4 separate regions of the Homo sapiens genome follow, and regions 2, 3 and 4 are each linked to region 1. Evidence: fine-mapped expression QTL. A gene starts in region 1. Each other region holds a variant in brackets. All regions are shown on one strand. Distances are between the middles of the regions. Region 1 holds the start of FHL2 (four and a half LIM domains 2). Region 2 overlaps UXS1 (UDP-glucuronate decarboxylase 1). Region 3 overlaps FHL2 (four and a half LIM domains 2). Region 4 has its middle 28 kb from the start of FHL2.

Region 1 (5,148 bases):
GTTACCAGAGAGCTGTAATAGTCAGGGTTTTCTAGAAAAATAGAACCAACAAGAGATGTACATAGAGAGATTTATCGCAATGATTTAGCTCACACAATTACGAAGGTGAAAAAGTCCCAAGACCTGCAGTCAGTAGGCTGGAGACCCAGGAGAGCCGATGGTGCAAATTGCAGTCTGAAAAGAGGAGACTCTATAGACCCAAGAAGAGCCGATGTTTCAGTGTGAGTCCAAAGGCGGAAAGGACCAATGTCCCAGCTCAAGCAGTCCGGCAGGGGGGCTTCCCTCTTACTCAGTTTTTTTGTTCTATTCAGGCCTTCAACTGTTTGGACAAGGCCCACTCACATTATGGAGAGCAGCCTGCTTTACTCAGTCTACCCATTCATATGTCAATCTCATCCAAAAACACCCTCCCAGACACACCCAGAACATATGACTGAATGTTTGGGCACCGCATGGCCCAGTCAAGTTGACACATGAAAGTAACCATCACAGTAGCTAAAACTGAAATCCACAATTTAGGATAACAGAGGAAATTCACTTGACTCACCCCAAAGTCAAAATGCCAGCCTAGTCTCCAGGAAGACACAGTTCTCAGCCACTAGAGAAAGCACACGTGTTTTGTTTCAGATGGTCATCTTGAGGAAGCGAACTCAGTATAATGCAACTTGAGATGGACACTTAATAAATGTGGCTTTGATCAAATTCTCATAATAAAACCGCACAGAAGAACCCAATGTCTAATGTTTCCATTCACCCAAGCTCAAGGAACTTTGTACCTCAGGGCATCTGAGTCAGAGAGCCGCTTAGCGACTCAGGCCCGGTGCTGACAAAGGAGGCTGCCTGAGTCACTGAGGCTGAGTAACTGGCCCTCGGCACAGGACAGGAGTAAACTACTCCTGATATCTAGTCTGTTTTTTTTTTTTTTTTTTTTTGGCAATATTCTATTGGGCGTTTTTGACTGCAATTTAAATATCTTTCAGTACTGGAAATGGTTTAACACGCAATCTTGGGTCAAAGTATGCATCATAAGGCCTCATAGAAATATTCAAATGTTAAAAAAAATAAATAAATATTCAAATGTTCCTCCCGTGGTGCGTTTAGTGGTTAGAACTCAGGTTCTCCAGTTAAGCTGCCTGGGGTCAGATCTCAGGGCTACCATTTACAGCCCGGGAAACCCTGAGTTAAAGTTACTTTGATCTCTGTTTTCAGTGTCTTTACCTGTAAAAATGAGGCTATCAAATATGTATACACTGTCTATGATGTCCAGGCTTCTTAACAACCCTAACAAAAAGACAACATCATTGTCCCTGTTTCCCAGTGGAGAAAACCGAGACACTACGAGATTAAGTGACTTGGCCCAGGCTGCACAGGTTGAGGGACCCGGATGTAAATTTAGGCAGCCTACATGCAGTCCCCGGCATCCCCTAGCCTACTGCATCTGCCTGTGGCTATTTGTGAGACGGTGAGCTAAAATGAGACAGAACCTATGTGCCCAGAACAGTTTCTGGTCTGTAGTAAGCCCATCATTAGCCTTCATCGACATGTTATGGTGTAAACGCATTTTAAACCATGGCAGGCTAATAAACACCGTGGAAACACAATTCTGTGTATTAACTGATGATCTTCTAAACTGGGGGGTGATCTAAATCCAGTAACACTTGACAAAATTTTATATAAATGCACAATGAAATGTTCTTTGAGTTTGGTTTTATTAAAGTTTAATTGATAGACTAGGAATTCCTGTACTTCTAAGACTTGATGCAAATGGTTTTTGTTTTTTTGTTTTTTGTTTTTTTTTGTCTAAAACATCTTCAGGATAGTGCAAAACCTCTTTTCTTTAATATATTATTATAAAACACTCATTAGTAGAGTCAGCACCAAAAATGTGAGATGTATTGGGAGTTGTGTTTTGAAGACAGTTCTCCTGATTCTAAACCCAAATTGTGATTTATTACCTTCCAAAATATGTGGAAGGGAGTGCGGGCCTTAAGTTCAGTGATGTCTAAGTACACTGCTGCTTGCAAGCCAGCTACACATTTCAGCTAACCGGATTAGCCTACTTCCAGTTAAAACCCGACTGAGGATATGAAAATAAATATGACTGATTCATTTAAAATCAGAAAAACACTCAATATTTTCTTCCCTCTATTTCTGGTATGCTAAGATATCACACGAGTGCGACTTAAGAAAAACTTAGAATCTTTTCATTTAAAATAAGCCATTTTTGTTTTAACCGAATGGTTCAGTTATTAAATGTCTACCTGAGTCAAGGAGCGAGGTCACACTGCAAACTCCACTTATTTCTACTAAAGGGAAATGGCCCGGACTCCCCCGCGCAGACCACCGTGCCAGGACAGCCCGCTCGGGAGTCGGGCCTGGAAGCAGGCGGACAGCGTCACCTCCCCGCAGCCGCCGGCTGGGACCCGCGGCCAGCCTTTACCCAGGCTCGCCCGGTCCCTGCCCGCATGGCGGTGCCCCACCTGGTGAGGACGCGGGCTGCAGTCCTCCCTCTGGGGATGAGTCGGTGGGCTCCTCTGAGCTCCAGCGCCCCCAGGGTCTAGACCCCTCCCATTGCTCCGCTCCCCTCTCCCCGTGGTCTCCCCACCCCCAACCCCCAGGGTTCGGCTCTCCTCTCCCGGGTCTACCCCACAGCTCAACTCCTTTCTCCCGGCTTCTCCCCGCACGGTTCGGGTCCCCTCTCCCAGTGGTCTTCCCGGACCCACAGCTCTGCTCTCCTCTCACCAGTCTCCCCAACTCCGGCTCTGCTCCCCTCTCCTTGGGTCTCGCACCGGATTCGGCCCCCACTTCCGAGCCCTGGTGGCTAAGCCCCTCGGCCTCCCTCCGGGGCGCAGGGGGTTGGAGGTACTCACGGCACCGCAGCGGGCCGGGGACTCCCGGACGGGGCTGGAGGGCGCGGGCGGCTGGTGGCTGCGGCTCCGCTGCCGGCCGAGTGGAGCGCTGCGCAGCTCCCGCCCTCGAGAAACCCCGCCGTGTCATTTGACCATATAAGGAGATGCACGCCTCGGCTCGCTGGCACCGGGCGTGGGGCGCGGGGGGCGGGCGCCCCCAGGCCTCGCGGTTGCCGTGCCCCCGCCCCGGGCTGCGGCGGTCCCGGCCCGTACCCTTTGTTTGCCAGGGCTCCTTTCTTCGTGCCCTCCGGGTCTTGGGAGCACAGTAGTTATCGGGAGCGTCGCCTCCGGCGTGGGCTCTCGGGCGCGAGTTTCGGACGAGGCCTGGGCGCGGTGGCAGGGGTCTGCCCACGCCGGGATCTCTGCCTGGTCCCAGGAGCGGGAGACTGGAGAAGCCCCAGGACGTGCCGGGGGAGGCGGAGGGAGGAGGGGGTCACTTCTCAGGAGGCATGTGCCTGGGATATATTTGCAAGGTGGACGTTTTTCCTTCTTACCCTGCAGATGCTTCTTTACGAAATGAACACCACAGATGACCATAAAGAATCCTTCGTTCCACTACGGAGGGGACTAAAGGAAGGTCCTATCCCCACCTCTCCCTCTCGGGGCCAGAAGACTAGTTAGACATCTTGGATTCCCCTCCAGGGCGGGAAAACCAAAGTGAGCTGGGAGCGTGCCTCCCACATTCCAAGCCCGGGCCCTCTGCGTGACGCTGACGCTGGGTAGGGACAGATGGCACTGTTCAGCATTGTCGCAGGGAGAGCACAGGTTGAGCCCATCCCTGGGAGAGGGTGCGTCGTGATGGAAACATTTGCTCCTGAGCAGGTAACCGGTCCACTTGCAGAAACCGGTGGACGATGAGTAGGTGGACCACAAAGGCGTCCTCGGCACTTTGGGGGCAGGTGTATTATTTTTAACATTCGGGGCAGCTCATAGGAATACATCCTCCAGAGAAGGCGGGAAGAACTCCGTGATTGCTTTCTTTTAATTGATACTCTCCGTCTGGTAGGCCTCATGGGTCTCCATCATGGAATCACAGAACTTGAGAATAAAGGGGCTTCATCACCTTAGCTTCCACTCGGTGAGCACTAGCTCTACCTGGTATCTCATTTGATCCACACTCCTTTAAGGTAAAGATTTTTACCAGATTTACGGTGAGGAAAGTTCAGCTCAGATTTGCTCCAGGCCACGTGAACGGTAACTGTGCCAGCTGAGATTTGAACTGGGATGTGGTAGATGGCAAAGCCATGTAAGTATATTACGGGATCAGAAATGCCTCTCATCCCTCAGTCACTCAGGTGACTCCAGAGGACTGAGACTTGCCATAAGCCCAGCCAGAACTAGATGTGCGGAATACAGCCCTCCCCCGACCCCACCCCACTGTGTCCCTGAAACAGGACGCTTTCCTGAAGAACCTGAGTTAAGGCCACCCTACCTGAATTTCCACTAAGTGTCAAGACAGGCTAGTATTTTGAAATTCAGAGCAAAGTTTGTGTAGAAAAGGCTCCCAGCCCCTGACAGCTACCTAGATGTGTTGTTGATATCGTTACAAATTAGGAAATGGTCTCCTAGTTCTCAAATGGTGAGTCTTAAGCTTCAGTTTGTAAAAACAAGCCCTAAAATGATGAAACATTAATTCTGCATTTATCTTCTTTCTGATTCCTTTTGTCTTATATTTTAATTTTTTTTTTTTTTTTAGCTTTCTGACTTACGGGTGTAATCCATTTAGCTTTGCTTTTTTACTGATAGAGTTATTTAGTTCTGTTATTTTTCTTCTAATAACTGCTTTAGCTGTGTCACATAGGTTCAGCTATGTTGTGTTTTATTATTAAGAAATTCTGCAATTTAATTTTGTGTTTAATTTTTGACCTAATGGGTAGCAGAACATTTTAAATGACCCTGTGGTCATTCGATAGGGTCAGTAAAATCCGGACTCTGGAAACAAACATACCCAGTTTCTACAACAACGATGCACAAAGAAAAACAAGAGAGATGGAGACAGAACCAAGAGATTAAAAAAAGACTTAGCCAACTGCCATGTATGGATCTTATTGGATTCTTTTTTTTTTTTTTTTTTGGATCTTATTGGATTCTAATCAAAGAATAAACTAGTAGAAAATCAATTTTTATGAGACAACCTTGGAAAATATGACACTGACAGGATATTTTCTAGTATTAATGAACAATTTATGTTAGGGGTGATAATGTGATTACACACACACATATATTTTTCTTTTCTTAA
Region 2 (5,148 bases), 740 kb after region 1:
AAAATCAATGTACAAAAATCACAAGCATTCTTATACACCAACAACAGACAAACAGAGAGCCAAATCATGAGTGAACTCCCATTCACAATTGCTTCAAAGAGAATAAAATACCTAGGAATCCAACTTACAAGGGATGTGAAGGACCTCTTCAAGGAGAACTACAAACCACTGCTCAAGGAAATAAAAGAGGACACAAACAAATGGAAGAACATTCCATGCTCATGGGTAGGAAGAATCAATATCGTGAAAATGGCCATACTGCCCAAGGTAATTTACAGATTCAATGCCATCCCCATCAAGCTACCAATGACTTTCTTCACAGAATTGGAAAAAACTACTTTAAAGTTCATATGGAACCAAAAAAGAGCCCACATCGCCAAGTCAATCCTAAGCCAAAAGAACAAAGCTGGAGGCATCACACTACCTGACTTCAAACTATACTACAAGGCTACAGTAACCAAAACAGCATGGTACTGGTACCAAAACAGAGATATAGATCAATGGAACAGAACAGAGCCCTCAGAAATAATGCCGCATATCTACAACTATCTGATCTTTGACAAACCTGAGAAAAACAAGCAATGGGGAAAGGATTCCCTATTTAATAAATGGTGCTGGGAAAACTGGCTAGCCATATGTAGAAAGCTGAAACTGGATCCCTTCCTTACACCTTATACAAAAATCAATTCAAGATGGATTAAAGATTTAAACGTTAGACCTAAAACCATAAAAACCCTAGAAGAAAACCTAGGCATTACCATTCAGGACATAGGCGTGGGCAAGGACTTCATGTCCAAAACACCAAAAGCAATGGCAACAAAAGCCAAAATTGACAAATGGGATCTAATTAAACTAAAGAGCTTCTGCACAGCAAAAGAAACTACCATCAGAGTGAACAGGCAACTTACAACATGGGAGAAAATTTTCGCAACCTACTCATCTGACAAAGGGCTAATATCCAGAATCTACAGTGAACTCAAACAAATTTACAAGAAAAAAACAAACAACCCCATCAAAAAGTGGGCGAAGGACATGAACAGACACTTCTCAAAAGAAGACATTTATGCAGCCAAAAAACACATGAAAAAATGCTCATCATCACTGGCCATCAGAGAAATGCAAATCAAAACCACTATGAGATATCATCTCACACCAGTTAGAATGGCAATCATTAAAAAGTCAGGAAACAACAGGTGCTGGAGAGGATGTGGAGAAATAGGAACACTTTTACACTGTTGGTGGGACTGTAAACTAGTTCAACCATGGTGGAAGTCAGTGTGGCGATTCCTCAGGGATCTAGAACTAGAAACACCATTTGACCCAGCCATCCCATTACTGGGTATATACCCAAATGACTATAAATCATGCTGCTATAAAGACACATGCACACGTATGTTTATTGCGGCATTATTCACAATAGCAAAGACTTGGAACCAACCCAAATGTCCAACAATGATAGACTGGATTAAGAAAATGTGGCACATATACACCATGGAATACTATGCAGCCATAAAAAATGATGAGTTCATGTCCTTTGTAGGGACATGGATGAAATTGGAAACCATCATTCTCAGTAAACTATCGCAAGAACAAAAAACCAAACACCGCATATTCTCACTCATAGGTGGGAATTGAACAATGAGATCACATGGACACAGGAAGGGGAATATCACACTCTGGGGACTGTGGTGGGGTCGGGGGAGGGGGGAGGGATAGCATTGGGAGATATACCTAATGCTAGATGACACGTTAGTGGGTGCAGCGCACCAGCATGGCACATGTATACATATGTAACTAACCTGCACAATGTGCACATGTACCCTAAAACTTAAAGTATAATAATAATAATAAAAAAAGAAAAAAAAAAAGAATGGAGAAGTCAAGAACACACACAAAAAAAAAAAAAAAAAAAAAGAAAGCCAAGTCTGAAAACCAGTGAGTTAATTTAGAAATAGAACCAATGCTTATGGGAAGAATAATCTTTTTGTAAAGAGAACTAACAAAACACAAAATCTTTAAAATTATTGATGGTCTGTCAAAATGCAAGTTCGCTGAGAGGATCTGTCCAAGTAAAAGGAAATCCTGCGACTGCTGTTCCCACCCCCACAAGTTATTCTGAGCTGAAAAACAGCTAAAAATAAAAGACAAACTAATATTGTATTATACAAATTGTAATTTAACAAGATACCTTTTAAAAATCAGTTCTCACAAAGTCCCATAATTCTAAGGCCAAGCTATCTTTTGCAGTTTCCAGCTAGGATCAGCACAGACCGGGTCAGTTCCTGCTACACCTACTTCCAAGCTCCAGGGCTGCAGGTAGAAGCAGCAGACCATTAGCCCCAGAAACAGGCACTGTGCTGCCTCCTCTGAAGATTCCTCCTCATACCCACTGCCACTTTGGAGCAGGACTGTGCCAAGTTGAAAACCAAATGAGGGCCAGGCACAATGGCTCACACCTGTAATCCTAGCACTTTGGGAGGCCGAGGTGGGTGGATCACCTGAGGTCAGGAGTTCGAATCCAGCCTGGCCAACATGGTGAAACCCGTCTCTACTAAAAATATAAAAAAAAAAAAATAGCTAGGTGTGGTGGCAGGCACCTGTAATCCCAGCTACTTGGGAAGGTGAGGCAGGAGAATCACTTGAACCTGGGAGGCAGAGGTTGCAGTGAACCAAGATGGCACCATTGCACCGCAGCATGGACAACAAGAGCAAAACTCCGTCTCAAAAAAATAAATAAAATTTAAAAATTAAAATTAAAATTTTAAAAAATGAACCTGGCCAGACCTTCAGAGCCGAGTACGACACCACAGAGCC[C/T]GCTCAGGTGTGCTAGACCTGGAGCCTGCTGCCACCTGACTTATACTCACGGGCATTTCTGCTTACACAGACAGGGTCACCCTACATTCCTCAAAGAGAGTATAAACAACTCTGTATGGGCTGTGATCTTACACAACAAATTATTCATCATTATCTTTACTCTTGAGGTGACAAGGTATGCAGGGAAAGACAGGAAACTGCATTAAAGGCTAAGAGGGAAGAAGTGTGCCTTGAGAGTACAGGAAGCCTCTCCGACATCAAACAGAAAGCCACTATCATTAACCTCACACTCTTCCCTCCTCGTCGTCTGCTCCAGTCCTGGCTTTCTTCTTCAAAGCTCAATCCAGACGTCAGTCTGTATGGGAAACCTTCTCACCATCCTTGGTCAGAAATAATCCCTTGCCTGCACCACTAGTCCACAACAGCTCAGCGCTGCCTTGTCCAGAGATTCACACATGCCTTCCTCACTAGACGATGAGCTCACTGAGCACAAGATGCAGGCCTTTCCCTTCCTGATGCTCTCCACAGTGTGGACTCTAGAGGGAGGGGAGGCCCCCTCGGTCACCCACAAATGCAGACTCCTGAGCCCACTGCAGGTCTCACCCTTCAGGATTTCCAGGCGGGCCTGGAAACCTTCCATTTACAACAAATACCCCTCCACGGTGCTCTGGCCCAGGCCAGTTTGGGAACAGGGCTCCACAAAAGTTAGCTGAGAGAAGAGATGAGCGTAAACTGGGGTTTTTCCATCCCCAAAGGCCATTCCATCTGGTTCAGTGTTTCTTCCTCACTGGACAGGTCAGTCCCACTGCTGCTCCGGAAGGCTGAGGGCCGCCCCATCAGACTGTCGAGACGTTCAGTTAAGTAGCGGCACTGCTGCATCCTCCCATTTGAGAGGAAACTGAAAACCCTATGAAAATCAAAGTTTCCCACCACCCCCCTCTCCTTTGAGAATGTGTTCTTCCTGTAACATTAACAATAACTCCAGTTCCTATCCTAAAAAGGGCACTGCAGCAGAGTCTGTTGGTTAAATAATCTGGTGAGAAATTCTGAAGGGGAGAGAAGAGGGGAAATTCAGAGCAGGGACAAATAACCAGCAATGAGAGGTGCTAGGTAAACAGTAAGTAACATTAATAACAACCGGCTTCGGAATATAAATAAAGCAGCAAGGTTAACCCTCACAGCCCAGGACAAAGGCCCTGGGAACATGTCAACTGCACAGTTCAGAGTACACCAAGCATGAGCCTGACGTTCCAAAATCCAAGCTGAGGTGGGGAGAGGAAGTCAAAGGGGGACAGAAAGGCAGCCCATTCATGGGTGCCCACAGTTGCTCCAGAGACCGCTAGAGACCCTGCCACGACCTTTCACATTTACAAGGCCACGTGCTGGGAGCTCAGCTAGAAAAATAGAAGTCTCAAGAAATGAGCCTAAAAGAGCTCCAATTAATGATCAGCAGCATTCCTACCAGAGAGCATGCAGGGTAATCTTATGTTGGGAAGTGGCTGGGTGAGGGCACAGCTGCGACTTACTCGGCCCTTCTATGAATCCTGACTGGGGAAACTCAACCAGTCAAACCACAAATGAACTCCCTAAAGGGTCTTAGGTTGAATTTCACTGTGCCCAAAACCCACATAAATGACACATACATAGGGAAGAAAAAAATCACCATAGGAGGAGAACAACTCGGGATAACCTGAAACCACTGTTCAGAACACATCGGAGAAATCGACATTTTCTTCTACCAAAGGGGAAATCCACATAAAAACTGACTGTAGCTTCCACTCCTTTGTTGATTTTCTTTTTTAATTTTGTCTTAAGTTAGTGACATAGTCTGTGTCAAGCCTCATTCTGTGCCACACCCATGCTGTATGAAACTGCCAAGGACCAGTTCAGGATTTGTACCATGAAACTAAAGACTATAGAAACACTAAAACGCAAAACAGTGGGTTAGTTCTTTCTGTGATAACTCACGCGATTATTTAGCACATACTAAATTCCCATCATAAAAGATACTTACAGTAGAATTCTCTTTTTCTACACTTGAGTCAGAGGTCTTACAGAAATACTCCCCAACGAGATGTCCCTCTCTGCAATGTGAAGTCTCACAGCATGGCCCTAGTCTTTGTCTCTAGAACCAGTATTTAGGATGGAAAACAGGAATGAAGAAGATACAGAACTTCTCAAAGTATAAAGACCAAATTTCTCTCGGCACAAAGAAGCAGAACAGCAAGATTTTCCCTTCATTTCATGTCAAATGTATTTACTTAGGGCAAAGGCTGCACACACTAGAGACTGGCTCAGCCCCCGGGAGCTGGGGTTGCCCGCCAGTGCTGTCGA
Region 3 (5,139 bases), 25 kb before region 1:
ATCTAATCGGTAGTGGGCCTTAGGGGCAAAGACTAAGGTTTCCCTAAGGGCAACTAATTCTTCTCAAGACTGCAATAGACACACCCTGCCTGAGTTTCCAGCCTGCCGCCCTACGGAATTCAAATGCTCCCATTTGGAACTGCAGTATCATCTCTTCCCTGAGCCTCCAGCCTGCTGCCCTGTTCTATAGATTCCAGACTTACCGCCTCCACAATCTCATGAGCCAATCCCTTGAAATCTCTCTCTCTCTCTCTCTCTCTCTCTCTCCTTATGTATGTATCTATGTGTATACATTTCCTTGATTGATTCTGTTTCTCTGGAGAACGTGACTAACACAGAAAGTCAAGACAGGTGAAAAATTCAAAATCCGGGAAATATGCATACTTTTTATGTCATGGTTGGTGCTAACAGTTAAAGTCTTTAAACAGCCCCTAGAGTCCCCAGTGGAAGCTTCCTTGGGCCCTTGTTCAGGAAACTAGTAAGGGTTTAATTTGTTTTTCAATTAATGTCGTGGTTCTTATTGTTACTGAGTGTTGTGTCTCTGCAGTGACTCCCTGTGGGGCAGGACACAGGTCAGCCTGGCTTTCTACGGGCTTCAATTCTCATTTGCACTGTCGCACAGCACTGGGGCCCGAGTTTCCAGCCTCTGCAGGATCCACATGATCTTAGAAGAGGCCTTCTTGCCTGGAGCTGCCCCATCTAAAGTCACCATGCAGCCCTTCCAGCTGTTTTCCCTTACAGCTGCCAACAGGGCTGGGACTGTGTCAGCCTGGGCATTTTTCTTCCCTGTCATAGTGTGTCACAGTTGTTTTAAAGTTATATTAACCAGAGAAATGTAGTGGCAGTAAGAAACCATCTTACCAAAGGTCAGATTACCTCCTTGCCTTTTTAAAAAATGATTATTCCTTATCCTACATAACTTTCTTTTTTTTTTGAGACGGAGTCTCACTCTGTCACCCAGGCTGGAGTGCAGTGGCGTGATCTCAGCTCACTGCAAGCTCCATCTCCTGGGTTCAGGCCATTCTCCTGCCTCAGCCTCCCGAGTAGCTGGGACTACAGACGCCCGCCACTATGCCCGGCTAATTTTTTGTATTTTTAGTAGAGACAGCGTTTTACCATGTTAGCCTGGCTGGTCTCAAACTCCTGACCTCGTGATCCGCCCTCCTTAGCCTTGCAAAGTGCTGGGATTACAGGGGTGAGCCACCACACCTGGCATCCTACATATATTTCTAAACTATTTCCCATATGTCAGTCTCTTCAGTATTTCTTTATTATCAAAAACAAAGCAAACCAACATGATGAAACCCCATCTCTACTAAAAATACAAAAATTAGCCAGGTGTGGTGGTGCACGCCTGTAGTCTCAGCTACTTAGGAGGCTAAGGCAGAAGAATCTCTTGAACCTGGGAGGCAGAGGTTGCAGTGAGTCAAGATTGCACCACTGAACCACATTGGCCAGGCCGATTTCAAACTCCTGACCTCAAGTGATCCACCCACCTCAGCCTCCCAAAGTACTGGAATTACAGGTATAAGCCACCGCACCCAGCTTCTTTCTGTATTTTGAAATTCCACATATTTTTGTCCACTTTGCTTTTTAAAATAAAAGATTCTGCTCTCCTACATAAAAAACAAAACAAAACAAATAACTCCCCCCACATACACACACAAAAAAACCATGAGGGACACAGTCCCATCAACACACAAGGCACCTTTATTGCCATCCTCGGCACCTGGCCCAGTTGCGGCTGTGCCCTTTTTGACTGTCCGTCTAGAACACCAACTCTACAAGGGCAGAGGACCAGGTGCACCTCGGCTCACACCCTACGAATGCTCAGCTCGAGCCCAGTGCCTGGCACGCAAGGGCACCATGCACACTTGGTGAAATAACTGAATGAGTACAAATTCAGCAGGTAGAAGGGAAGAAAAGAGAAACTATCTATGGTGGTGGGAGAGTGGGGGCTGATGCAGGAGATGTATTTTTAAGGGGGATACCCACCATTTTCTTACTCTAACAATTTGACTGCATAACACTGCCCCACGTGCACAGCAAAAAGATCCCGTTACTGCCCATGATAGAACCTGTATGTCCCTGCTTCGTAAGTACTCTAAATACTCCTCTGCAGTTCAAGGTCAAACTGGAAAGTCAACACGAGTGTCTGGAACCAAGTCAATGTGAACAGGGGGTCAGAGGAACGTGCACAAGGCTTGAAGCTAGACTGGCTCACGCATGAGAAAGGAGTGCCTCCTGACCTGGCATGATGGTCTTCTTGCATTCCTGGCACTTGGATGAGTACTCGTTGGAATAGCAGTCTGTACAGAGCAGCTGGTCCTCCTTGGCAGCAAAGGGCTTGTCCACCAGTGAGTTTCTGCACTGCGAGCAGTGGAAACAGGCTTCATGCCAGTGCCGGTCCTTGTAAGACAAGTCCTGTGGGGCCAGACCACACAAGACAGTCAGAGGCAGGACAGGAGGGCTTGGACCCACAGCATAGGGGCCCCTTGCGAATCTGCAGGGCAAACAAGGAAAGAAGTTGGGCCGAGGCACCCTGGCGCACCCACATTCATGCCCCAGGACCACCTAACTGCTGAAATCAATTAAGACTAGGCTGCTTTTCTCTTGCTGCATTTTAGAGCAACAGGTTAGACAGATGTGCATGTATGCACATGTCTGTGTGTGAGAGATGCTTCTAAAAAACAAAGGGATTTCCCTTATGTATTGCCTGCAAGAAAGAGAAACAGAAAACATGAACACCTATCAATTCGTCTCACACCACATCCGGTGACAGAGAAACAGACTGCAGGA[C/T]ATCCTTGGCTGAGGGAGCCCTGCCCAACTCAGATCACTGTGGTCACCGGCATGGCAGAGAGGCTCTGGGTGTCGGGATGTTCACAGGAGGCCCAAGGACTGTTTGGTGGGAGACGGTCAGGAGAGACTGTGTGTGTGGGTGCTACCTCTGTGGGTGGCCGTGAGCTGGGGGAGGAAGGGAATTTCAGGCAGAGAAAGAGCACAGACACAGAAGATCTGGGGACGGGGGGCATGTCAGATTGGAGGGACCACAGGCCAGGGGCGAGGTGGGAGGGCCCCCCGGCCTGGCTGGACTGGAAGATATGGCTGCCTTTTTGCCTTTTATGTCTGTGTAGAGATTCCATTGATCCTGAAGGCAGTGGACAGCTGCTTTTCAACAGGAGAGTGAAGTGCTCAGACTGGGGGACGGGTAAGGATGTGGGAGTGGAGGGGCGTGAGGGTGGGAGAAGTGAGACAAAAACTGAGCACACATGAGAGAGGCCCTGAGAAGACAGACGTGTGCTTTTGAGTAAAAGATGAGGGAGAGAAAGGAGCCCCGCAGAAAACTCGACTCCACACTTGGCTTCATCTTGCCTGAGGAATAAGAGAACCCTCCATATTTGCCTTTTAAAAATGACATACGGCATTTTTAAAGTGCCAACACAAAATTAAAATAACAATCTCTTTATGCCCAGCTTTATCTTAGAAAGGATATGTTTCTATTGCTGTCTTTGTGTTCCCAGCTCTGACCCCAAATCATCATCCATTTATACATGAGGCAGAAACAGAGTATTAGGCTCTGCACGGTTTCCTGGGCAGGCTTCCAGTTGGTAGGTATCCTGAACAGGGCACAGGAGGGCTGTTCACGCGATGGCCCTGAAGAAGAGCCTGCCCACGATGTCTCTGTTACTGAAACCGAAGTCGAAGCTGGAGTTATGCTGAATGTAGGATGTGAAGACATGGATCTTGGCCTTGATTAGAAAGTCCTAAAACACCAGCTAACTCGGAACCAAAACTAGAACAAACAGTTCTCTTTTGCTGAAGTATGTGTGTGTGTGTGTGTGTGTGTGTGCGCGTGCGTGTGCACATGTGTGCATGTATGTGTGTTTTCCCGGAACCTGGAACCAAACTAGTTATTTGATTTAGTGATCTCTTTGCGCATTTTGTTTTAGTTCAAGGAATTTTAAAAATGTGAACGCTGAGACACTTTGAAGACAGTCATGACTATGGCCTTTGTGAGGGGTGACCTCTTGTGCTATCCCTGTTGGAAGTTTGCTTCCTAGAACATCTGGGAATAGGATTATTGCTGACGCAAGACGATAAAGAATGAAGGAGAGGTCAGGAGTTCAAGACAAGCCTGGCCAACATGGCGAAACCCTATCTCCACTAAAAATACAAACATTAGCCGGGCGTGGTGGTGCATGCCTTTAGTCCCAGCTACTTGGGAAGCTGAGGCAGGAGAATCGCTTGAACCTGGGAGGTGGAGGTTGCACAGCCTTGGTGACAGAAGGAGACTCAGTCTCAAAACAAAAGGAATGAAGGTGAGAGGAGCATAGAGTGCTCTCAAAGCTGGACTAAATGCCCTTGTTTCTGCGGAATTCATTCTCACCTGAGCCCAGCACCTCTGGGTATTGTGGGTCCCCTGGGGTAGGCACTGCCTGTCAGGGGGACTCGGGGGCAGGTTGCTGAAATGCCCAAGCCCTCTTCATCCTTGAGAACCCAAACTGGGTATGCACTGGGAGTTGGGGGCAGAGGGCTAACCTGTCTTTTGTATTTTTAGCTTAAAGTATTTTCAGAAATCTGAGGGGAACATCACCTGTGCTTTATTGGTTATTTTGACAAGTGAAATAGAGGACAAACTGCTTTGATTTGAGTTGATGTCTACACATGTGAACTCATGAGAAACAGCAAAGCCCACAATCCACATGGACATCATCATCGTTCGGGAACAGGCATGGTCTCCATTCTTTCCATGCACACGCCCCGGCTTCAAAAAGACATCTGAAACACTAGTGATGACCATCATTACCCCATCTGTGAGCTCCAGGCACGGCACAGCCCTGCAAGGTAAATGTTATTACTGAAGGTCAGAGAAGTTCCGTAACTTGCCCAGTCACATACCTGGCACGGAGCTAAGCCAAGCTTCGAGCTCAAGTCCTCCTGATGCGAAAGTTATTTCCACTGAACCAGCCCAGGCAAAATCCTGGTCGGGTCTGTGTTACTCTTTGCTTTCAAAACAGATAGCCTTGAGGAGATGTGTGTGTGTGTTCATTTAAAAAAATCCAGAAACGACCAAACTCTGGCAACTTTCTAGAACATATTTTGTACCTAAATGAATGTGGCTCAGTATTGCCTTTGTTT
Region 4 (5,148 bases), 28 kb after region 1:
AGAATCTACAAGAACTTAAACAAATTTACAAGAAAAAACAAACAACCCCATCAAAAAGTGGGCAAAGGATATGAACAGACGCTTCTCAAAAGAAGACATTTATGCAGCCAACAGACACATGAAAAAATGCTCATCATCACTGGCCATCAGAGAAACGCAAATCAAAACCACAACGAGATACCATCTCATGCCAGTTAGAATGCTGATCATTAAAAAGTCAGGAAACAACAGATGCTGGAGAGGATGTGGAGAAATAGGAGCACTTTTACATTGTTGGTGGGAGTGTAAATTAGTTCAACCATTGTGGAAGACAGTGTGGCTATTCCTCAAGGATCTAGAACTAGAATTACCATTTCACCCAGCAATCCCATTACTGGGTATATACCCAAAGGATTATAAATCATTCTGCTATAAAGATACATGCACACATATGTTTATTGTGGCACTGTTCACAATAGCAAAGACTTGGAACCAACCCAAATGCCCATCAATGATAGACTGGGTAAAGAAAAAGTGGCACATATACACCATGGAATACTATGCAGCCATAAAAAGGATAAGTTCATGTCCTTTGCAGGGAAATGGATGAAGCTGGAACATTCTCAGCAAGCTAACACAGGAACAGAAAACCAAACACCACATGTTCTCACTCATAAGTGGGAGTTGAACAATGAGAACACATGGACACACGGAGGGGAACATCACACACCAGGACCTGTCAGGGAGTGGGGGCCTGGGAGAGGGATAGCATTAGGAGAAATACCTAATGTAGATGATGGATTGATGGTTGCAGCAAACCACCGTGGCACATGTGTACCTATGTAACAAACCTGCACATTCCGTACATGTACCCCAGAACTTAAAGTATATATATATTGTAGGGAAAAGAAAGAGAGATCAGACTGTCACTGTGTCTATGTAGAAAGGGAAGACATAAGAGACTCCATTTTGAAAAAGACCTGTACTTTAAACAATTGCTTTGCTGAGATGTTGTTAATTTGTAGCTTTGCCCCAGCCACTTTGCCTCAGCCACTTTGACCCAACTTGGAGCTCACAAAAACATGTGTTGTATAAAATCAAGGTTTTAAGGGACCTAGGGCTGTGCAGGACGTGCCTTGTTAACAAAATATTTACAAGCAGTATACTTGGTAAAGGTCATTGCCATTCTCTAGTCTCAATAAACCAGGGGCACAATGCACTGCAGAAAGCCGCAGGGAACTCTGCCCTTGAAAGCAGGGTATTGTCCAAGGTTTCTCCCCATGTGATAGTCTGAAATATGGCCTTGTGGGATGAGAAAGACCTGACTGTCCCCCAGCCCAACACCCGTAAAGGGTCTGTGCTGAGGTGGATTAGTAAAAGAGGAAAGCCTCTTGCAGTTGAGATGGAGGAAGGCCACTGTCTCCTGCTTGCCCCTGGGAACTGAATGTCTCGGTGTAAAACCCGATTGTACATTTGTTCAACTCTGAGATAGGAGAAAAGCTGCCCTGTGGCGGGAGACGAGACATGTTTGCAGTAATACTGCCTTGTTATTCTTTACTCCACTGAGATGTTTGGGTGGAGAGAAACATAAATCTGGCTTACGTGCACGTCCAGTCATAGTACCTTCCCTTGAACCTAATTATGACATAGATTCTTTTGCTCACATGTTTTTTGCTGACCTTCTCCTTATTATCACGCTGCTCTCCTACTACATTCCTTTTTGCTGAAATAATGAAAATAATAATCAATAAAAACTGAGGGAATTCAGAGGCCGGTGCCGGTGCAGGTCCTTGGTGTGCTGAGCGCCGGTCCCCTGGGCCCACTATTGTTTCTCTATACTTTGTCTCTCTGTCTTATTTCTTTTCTCAGTCTCTCGTCCCACCCAACTAGAAATACCCACAGGTGTGGAGGGGCAGGCCACTCCTTCATATATAATATAGATGTATTTGGTATTTGCTTCCTCTTCGGCAATGTAATGGCCACACTATGTCATCATCGGGGGTGTCTTTCTATCTTGCATGCAAGCTTTTACCCGGTGCATTTGTCAAAGTGCTCTTAGCTCTTGGAAAAACAGGTTCTCTGCTGCCATAAGGAAGTGAGAAGAAAAGAACTTTCCAGCTTTCTAAAAGGCAATGTGCATTCTGTCTTAGCCACTTCCCATCACCCCCAGCCCCACTAGGAAAAGTCAGTATTCATTTTTGACGTATAAAAGTAATTGCATCTATGTTACCTTAACCAGGCTCCATAATTCAAGTCAAAAGTAACCAAAAGCAGAATGAAAAACACATGGTAAAGAATGGAAACAGCATGGTCTAT[C/T]AAAATACCTTTGCAGTTTGCTTTTATCTCTCCTTCCAGACATCCTGCCTAGGGTCGCTCTCTTCTGCTCTGCACCAGGGTCACCCTCCTCCCTTCCCTGAGCCAGCAGTCCTGGAAGGCAGCCTTTGATGTGAGGGCTCCCCACTCCTGCACCTACCTTCTGCAAAATTACAGGAAGAGGCTAGAAGCCCCTGTGCTGCTGCAAAGACCCCGAAACAATGCAGAAGGGGGGCCAGGCACTCAGGCGGAGATATTTTCCACTTATGTTGTGGCACAGAAGGGAGGTGCATGAGAACACACGCACAGCAACACCCAGCACTCCCACACTTAGGCACAAATAGTGCTGGGGTGCAGATGCTGCCGAGGAGGTGTGGGGTTGCTGAGAATTAGCCGGGTTGCTTTGAAGCTTCTCAGAGATCTCTACTCACATGGCCCTTATCACTCCTTGGTGAATGGTGCAAGGTTTTGGCTTTTTCTTTCTTTTCCTTTTTCGATAAAGACTTATGTTGATAGAACTGATCAAATAGGAAGGCATTTCGTTGGCTCTAGCCTAAAGGATCAAACTAAGCCATCTGCAGAGAATGGAGGATGCCTGAGAGGGGTGTGTAGGAGTAAGAGAGCCGCCCTTGGCACTGTAAGAATCCAGGCGAAAGGAAAAAGAAAACCTGCAAAGATGGTTTATAGCAGGGGACTGCAAATTTTGGTGGCTGCCCACACCAGGAAGTACATTTTTTACATCATAACCACATCAATCACCCTCACATTTAATGCTAGAAAAATATACTGTCATGAAAAAATTCTGGAAAGAATTTCTTACTATGTGAAAAGCATTCTATTCCCTTTAATTCTATTTTTTCCTGCTCTAGTCAATTTCATTTTGTTGTTAAAAATATGCTGATCTCAATCCACTGAACTGATTTCATGACCCATGATATGCACTATGAAACTCACCCGGAGCTTGAAACACTTCTGTTTCAGTGAAGTCTGGACAAGAGAGAGTGTCTTGTGAACATGTGGAGAGGGCAGCAGAAAAGCACCTCAATTTAGAACAATGTCACAAAAGAAAAGTGAGCTCCGGGGCTTGGGGGATGGAGGTGCAACTCTCAAATGTCAATAATCAATAGGATAAACGTGTCCCTGACTTTCGAACAGAGGCCCTTGTGAGGGAGTTACATCATTGGTCTGCCTCAAAAGAAACTTTATTCAGCATTTCTTGTCTTGCATGTGAAAGGAATGAGAGTGTTTGAGGTTGCAGGCAAGCATTTAGATGTTGAATAATCCCTCTAAACCATTGTGCTTACAGCTAAGGCAGCTTCACTAGGCCCTGGGTGCCTGGGTGTGAGGCTTTGGGCTCAGAGAAGGGACCCCCTCTGACAGGGCCCCGAGAACCAGCAGTTACACCTGTGGACCTCACATACTTATTAAAAGTGCTCTCAAAAGTGCCTCAGTTTGGACCATAAATTCAATAGTCACTCTAAGTATGAATAACTGAGGAAAGTATGTCTAGAGTATGCAGTCTACTTTATTCTTATTGCTTTGTCACAAAAACACACAGCCCATGTAAATTCACCTCTGATTTCTAACACTGTGATGCTCACATTAAGCAAAGGATCAAAGCAACTGGGTACCAGGTAAGTAATCCTGTTCTGAGAACTCATGGTCATAAAAGGTCTCAGTCAACTAGAAGCCTGCTGAGGGTGGCCCCTAGTCTTTCCCACCTGGAGGAACAAAGGTCCTTTTAGATTCCAGTCCTGGAGGCCCTGAGCCACCCCCAAGTGAGTGGAGGTATGCGTATATGTGTAAGGGCGGCCCGTGCCACCCATAGGTGAGGTCTGGACATAGCTCAGCTGACACAGATTTGGGAGCCAGGGGCTTGCTGAGCTGTGAACACCCCATCTTCCCCAAACTACAGCTCATCTCCAGCTTCTAGTTTCCCTGCAACCCCACTTCTTTTGTACCCAAATAATTCTCATGTCCTGTTGACTTGCTCCCTCCCTGGTGGATCAAACCTGGCTGGTTTGCTGGGCCTTGGAATTACCTTCGGGATCTTTCCATCCCTGAGAGGTTGGGCTCCTCATAGGCCGCCAGCCTGACTCGGAGGACCGTCTACTACCCTCTCCTGCGGACAGGCCCGCCCATGGCTGCCCCATGACCATGCTTGCCCTGTCCCTTGGCTTCGTGTGGGTCAGCTTGTTCTGCCACCTTGCTAGGCTGGTTCCTGGAGCTTCTATCTGTTGTGGCCTGGGTTGCCACGCTCTCCCTGGTCACCTGTGTGCCCGGACCCTGTGTCCCTCACTGGAGCACTCTGAGCTAGGCCGCCTCAGCTCTTCCTTACCTGCTCCTCTTACTGTGGGGATCCTGCTTCCAGGTCTGCCCTTGGCGGCTGCTCTGTACTCTGTACAGACACCCTGTTGGATGGGAGGCATGTCATGGCCTGTCCCCATGCTAGGCTTTCATTTTTACTTTGTAACCTACTTTTATCAAACGTCTGTGGTTGCTTAAAAGTCAATAATATATTTGGAGATGGGGTGAGATGGATTGTTTTAAACCTTACCTTCATAAGATAAAACAATGTTGAAAGTTAACTGTGAGCCTTTGGCGTCCTATACTGCAGAGGAGAAGGGCAGAAGGGGATGACCTGTCCTGTTTAATGTGGCATACAAAACCTGAATCTGGGATCCAGAGGTTTCCACCCTCCCTCCACTGCCACAAGGGGGAAAAAGGACTTAATAAACACCAAAGACTTTGCCCCACAATATGATGGTCAAGAAATCGGCTGGGAGTCAAATCGCAGTTCTGCCTCTTAGTAATTGGTAGCAAAATGATGGTCTCCCAAAATGTGCACATCTGAAT

Evidence for each region.
Region 2: its variant is fine-mapped to the expression of FHL2 in ileum (CEDAR, PIP 0.95).
Region 3: its variant is fine-mapped to the expression of FHL2 in whole blood (TOPMed, PIP above 0.99).
Region 4: its variant is fine-mapped to the expression of FHL2 in whole blood (INTERVAL, PIP above 0.99).

The regions. Positions count from the first base shown.
Region 1 is chr2:105,396,100-105,401,247 of GRCh38, forward strand. It overlaps FHL2 (four and a half LIM domains 2), which reads right to left and starts at 2,952. Exons shown (of 7, transcript NM_001318895.3): 1 at 2,743-2,952; 2 at 548-598. RefSeq lists silencers at 2,686-2,905, 2,926-3,055 and an enhancer at 2,733-3,555.
Region 2 is chr2:106,135,073-106,140,220 of GRCh38, forward strand. The region is part of intron 6 of UXS1 (UDP-glucuronate decarboxylase 1); the gene reads right to left. Among named protein-coding and RNA genes, the nearest start is that of UXS1, 57 kb to the right of the region's middle. The variant C/T (reference allele first, on the strand shown) is at 2,815.
Region 3 is chr2:105,371,310-105,376,448 of GRCh38, forward strand. It overlaps FHL2 (four and a half LIM domains 2), which reads right to left. Exons shown (of 7, transcript NM_001318895.3): 4 at 2,250-2,424. It also overlaps a transcript of C2orf49 not described here. Among named protein-coding and RNA genes, the nearest start is that of FHL2, 25 kb to the right of the region's middle. RefSeq lists an enhancer at 2,586-2,865. The variant C/T (reference allele first, on the strand shown) is at 2,800.
Region 4 is chr2:105,424,150-105,429,297 of GRCh38, forward strand. It overlaps a transcript of FHL2 not described here. Among named protein-coding and RNA genes, the nearest start is that of FHL2, 28 kb to the left of the region's middle. RefSeq lists an enhancer at 3,260-3,761. The variant C/T (reference allele first, on the strand shown) is at 2,296.